Linked DNA regions of Homo sapiens: region 2 is linked to region 1. Evidence: fine-mapped expression QTL. Tissue or cell type: whole blood. Region 1 holds a variant in brackets; the other region holds the start of a gene. Each region is shown on its reference strand, or each on the opposite one. Region 1 overlaps IKZF1 (IKAROS family zinc finger 1). Region 2 holds the start of ANKUB1 (ankyrin repeat and ubiquitin domain containing 1).

Region 1 (2,500 bases):
ACGAGTGGTGACGTTGCTGCTATAAGGCAGGGCAAGGAGCAACAGTGCTGAGAACGCTATCTTAGGGCATGTGTCCAGGAAGACCTCTCTGTGTGGAGACCACTGCACAGAGCCCTGAGGGAAGGGAGAAGAGCGCCAAGAGGAAACCTAGGGGATAGTCCAGGCCCAGGCCCAGCTCATAGGTGACTCACGCCGGCCTACCCTGGGGCTGCTAGTTAGATTTTAATCCTTTCTATTCTGCTAGCTCCCACTTACTGGACTTCAATCACATTTAAACATTCTCCTAAAAAGACTACCCTGTAAATACCATCCCCTAGTCCTGTGACCCCCGACCCCAACCAGCTCCTTGTCTTCTTTCTTCCCTTGGTTCCTGATGCCTGACAGCCCACAGCTGCTGCCTCCTCTCCTGTGCCGCTCCCGGTCCCTCTCACATGGTTGGTTTTGCCCCAATCCTACCGAGCCGCTTGTGGGAAACCCACCGCCAACCCCCAGACACCTCTTTCTAGGGCATTATCCTGTCCCCAGCAACTCCTCTCGCCATGTTTCTTTCTAGAAATTTTACCCGAATCACACAACTCACTCTGTCTCCTTCTTTGCTCCTCTCTTAGACAATTAAAGGCATTTACTCCCCAGGGCCCCTGTGGTCCTGCTGTTTTGTTGGCTGTCCCTCCTGAGCTGATAGTGTCCCACAGATGGAACTTGCCCTATGACTTACATCCCTACCTTCCAGACTGTTCCGTGGCTAGACACCATCCCTTGGTCTCATGCGAACCCCTACTCTGGGTACAGTTCCCATTGCATTCAGCAGAATCACTGTGGCCCCAGTCACCGAAGTGGACAATGCAGCCAACGGATGGAACCGCCTCAAAGGGGCAAACACCACGGGGCTGCTGAGATGCCCTTCTCTGCCCTCTGAGACGCCCCTCCCTGCCTTTCTTCCCCTCCTGCACCAAAGGCCTCCTGGCCTCTCGCCACCGCCTGTCCCAAGGGCGAGCTATCTGACAGGCCCCCTGAAGGGCTATTCCCAGGTCAGCAGGTTTGAGGGTTCCCTTTCCAGCACC[A/G]CACCCTTTATTCCTCAGCCTCAGAGCGAGTGCGGGCCTCCTGTGCCTCTGAGCCTGCAACCCGCCCCACTCCTGCCACCTCCACCCCTTCCTAAAGAAGGGGACAGCCGAGATGTGACCCATGGTCCCCACGCACGCCCCTTCACCAGCACATGCGTGCCTGTGGCAAAATGACTCATCCCCTCCCTCTGCACCCTCCCCCTGCACCCTCCCCCTGCCCCCGCCGGGGCCAGGCAGGGCTCCTCCTCCCCCAGTGCTTCCAGCTGTGGCAACCACATGGCGTTTGCCAACTGAGTCTTCTCCGGGGACCCAGCCTGGCCACGGGCTGCACCCTGTGTTTTATCACTGAGGAACTGTAAGCTTTTTGTAGGGGTCAGTGTGTCAATGCTTCTCCCTAAAGCCACCTGCTTAACAGGAATGTCAGACATGGAGCAGGCCAAAATGCAGATGATGATGATATCAGTGCAGCTGCTCTGGACAGCCCTCTATGCTGTGCCCTGCTGGGTCAGGCTTCACAGACATGACAGCCAGGATCGGGTGAGGGGGCGCCCTCACCTCACAATGAAGGAACAGCAGAGCCACCTGCCAGGGCCAACAGCTAGGAATCAATAGAGCCAGGCCTACCTACCCACATGGCCTGCTCCCAGGCACAGCAAACACCCCAGTGGCTCAGCTGCCACATGCATGTGCACACATACACCACAGACACACCACACATCCCATACACACATACACACCACACATCCCATAAACATATACACAGCACACATCCCATAAACATATACACACCACATACCACGCTTCCCATACACACATACACACCATACATCCCATACACACCACACATCCCATACACATATAACACACATACACACTACACATCCCATACACATACAACACACATACACACCACACACCACACATCCCATACACACATACACACTATGCACCACACACCACACATCCCATACACACATACACACCACACATACACACTACACATCCCATACACACATACACACCACACACACACCACACATCCCATACACACATACACACCACACATACACACCACACATCCCATACACACATACACACCACACACCACACATCCCACACACACATACACAACACACCTCCCATACACACATACACACCACATACCACACATCCCATACACATACACAACACATATACACACCACACATCTCACACACAACACATATACACACCACACATCTCACACACATACACACCATACATCCCATATACATATCCACACCACACACCACACATCCCATACACATCATATATCCCATACACATACACATCACACATACATACCACACATCCCATAAACATATACACACCACACACCATATATCCCATACACACCACACATCCCATGCACACATGCACACCACACACACTACACATAC
Region 2 (3,056 bases), not on the chromosome of region 1:
ACTGATTAGTTAGATGTCACTTTTACCATACACTAAATTCTTTTATGTATTTGAATCCATTTCTATGCTTTCTATTTTTACATTGATTTTTCTGACTCTTCATGTGCCTGTACCATCCTGTTTTAATTACTGTAGCCTTATATTAAATTCTAACATCTAGTAGGTGACTGCCCCCTCATTACTCTTCTTTTCCAGAGTTTTTCCAGCTATCCTTGCCTGTTTTCTCTACATGAATTTTAGAACCATCTTGCTTACATAAACAAAAAAAATCTTGCTTGTATTTTTATTGAGATAATATTAATTTATAGATAAATTTAGGAAGAATTGATGACTTTAAATAATTTTGAACCTTCCATCCAAGGTTATGATATACCTGCCACTTGTTCAGCCCTTTTTTATGTTTATTGATTGTATTTTATGTTTATGTTATACGGCTCTTACACATTTCTTGTTAAGATCTTTCTTTCTTTCTTTCTTTCTTTCTTTCTTTCTTTCTTTCTTTCTTTCTCTTTCTTTCTTTCTTTTTTTTTTTTTTTTTTTTTGAGACAGAGTCTCACTCTGTTGCCCAGGCTGGAGTGCAGTGGTGTGATCTCAGCTCACTGCAACCTCTGCCTCCAGGGTTCAAGTGATTCTTGTGCCTCAGCCACCAGAGTAGCTGGGATTACAGGCATGTGCCACCACACCTGGCTAATTTTTGTATTTTTAGTAGAGACAAGGTTTCACCATGTTGGCCAGGCTGGTCTCGAACTCCTGACCTCAAGTGATCTGCCCAACTTGGCCTCCCAAAGTGCTGGGATTACAGGCGTGAGCCACCGCACCCAGCCAAGTTTATTCTTAATACATTATCTTTCCTTTTATAAATGGAGTATTTTCTTCTATTATGTTGAAGAGACAGATTCTTGCTATGTTCCCTGGGCTGCAAAGCAGTGGCTATTCGCAGGTGCAATCACAACGTATTACACCCCCAAACTTCTGGGCTCAAACTATCCTCCCATCTCAGCCTCCTGAGTAGGTGGGATAGCAGGCATGTGCCACCATGTTCAGCTTATTTGCTCGCTTATTGAGCGGGTTTGAAATATTTTCCACCAACACTAAGTGGGGGTTGAAGGAGATAACAATGGGAAATTGTTCTAAATAACATAAAGGCAAGGATTAAAGAAAATACCAACTATATTGTGTTGCTACTCAGCAGATTCTATGACACAGAAATCAGAAAAGAAAGCCACAGAATGATTTGCCTACACATTCATCTCCCTGGTGCAAGTGGGTATTGTTCTGTACCCTGTGGCAGGATTATAAATACTGCCAGAGAACAAGTACACAAAGTTGTTATGGAAACCAGAATGTTTCAGCTCAAGAGTTATTTACAGAGAACTTTCAGGATTATCACATTCAATAAAATCAACTCTTGTTTTGCTTCACCCTGTGCTAGTGCATCCCAATCAAATATCTATTTTTAAGGGTTCTTCAATCAGCTGTACTTATGTAAATAAGAATTCAGGAGTCAGTTGATGGGGACCACATCACAAAAGTGTAATTTATGAGTAGCATTTTTGTATCACATGCTTGAAGCTTGTCCATACTTGCCTCAACCATTGTCAAGTTTGCTGGTTTCCGTAATATAGGAATAAGGTGGCTATTGACTACTGCCTTCCGCAGATAAATATTTCCTCCAAAGTAGCTGGTGTCTGTGTTGCCTGATACTGTGGCACTGTGGGACTAGGCTCTTCACATTCTACAACTTACCTTTGAGGCTAGACAGTGACAGCTGCCTCTGGCTATCATTTTTGTCCTTAATTGTGAACCGGAATTTTTCTAGCCATCCAGGAGAATCTTTGAAAAAGTTGGATATTTTTTGTTTGAAAAGGTAATTGTACAATGAGGATTTTCATCGCCTTTGAAGGATCTTTTGAACCGTTTGATGTTTCAGCAGATGAAACTGTGGAGGTTGTCAAGCTGATGATAAAGGTATGTACTTCGTTCCCAAACCACCAAAATGTATATTAATTTTAACAATGCAGTGCATTTAAAAATGTACAAAGGGTAGAGATGCTATTGGGTACATTTTCAGCAAACAGGGAACGAAAACTATTTGAAAATACTATTATTTGCTTACACAATAGATTTATAAGAAGATAGTAACTCTGGTAGTGTTGGACAAGAAAGCAAAAAGAGCCAGTCAATTATCAAGAAAAAAAAAAAGTCTGACTTCTTTTTAGGGAATGTGTGGGTTGTGCATAGGCCAGATAATATTATTGCAATTCTTCATAAAAGGACCAAAGCAAGACACCAACTTCAGGCTATATACGTGGGACATGCCAGTCATCAGATAAATGTCTTATTTGGTGAGCAAACAACTACAAAGAACAGAAGATTTTGGAAGCAGAGAGGACTTTAGAGAACTTGTGAGCTATGGCTTCATTTTGCATTCAGAAAAAACTGAAGCTCTGAGAGGTTGACTATCTTACCTAGGATCACAGAGCCAGAATAAGAAATAACTTGGGTATAGTATCTTCCTTATAAATTTCATATAAATGTTCACTCTAAAATAAAAAATTAAGCAAAATATTTAGTTTCTGATCATCAAATATTTAACTTGGAGATGGTCATTCCTATTTGCTAAGCGGCATTTACTGAACCATAGTTACATGATATTCAGTAGATTATTATGATGATTGAAATCTAAATCTTGTAACACAAGGGATCTTAACCTCTATGTTTTATTAACCCCTTTGGAAGTCTGGTGATGTCTATAGACTGCTTCTCAGAATGTCTTTAAATGCATAAAATAAAACAGATATGATAGAAATGAAATTTGTTATATTGAAATACATTTTCCAATATTAAAAAGCAAATGTATGATATAGTGACATGTGGACTTCCTAATTAACACATTAACTAACAAGTTCTAGCAGCTCATCTAATAACTATTATTTTCAAAATACAGATCAGTAGAAATAATATTTTGAAATATTTGCAACAACTATAATGTGATATGAAAACATCTGTGACTTCTATTGGTGTCAGTCACAGGTACAGCGACTACTCCTACTTTA

What was found. PIP is the estimated chance that this variant, and not a neighbour inherited with it, causes the effect.
Region 2: it holds the start of ANKUB1, and the variant in region 1 is the best candidate, but not a certain one, in a credible set for the expression of ANKUB1 in whole blood (TOPMed, PIP 0.60).

What each region holds. Positions count from the first base shown.
Region 1 is chr7:50,335,037-50,337,536 of GRCh38, reverse strand. All of the region lies in intron 3 of IKZF1 (IKAROS family zinc finger 1), which reads right to left. Among named protein-coding and RNA genes, the nearest start is that of IKZF1, 32 kb to the right of the region's middle. The variant A/G (reference allele first, on the strand shown) is at 1,062.
Region 2 is chr3:149,791,189-149,794,244 of GRCh38, reverse strand. It overlaps ANKUB1 (ankyrin repeat and ubiquitin domain containing 1), which reads left to right and starts at 1,691. Exons shown (of 6, transcript NM_001144960.3): 1 at 1,691-1,968. The coding sequence starts at 1,879. RefSeq lists an enhancer at 2,805-3,056.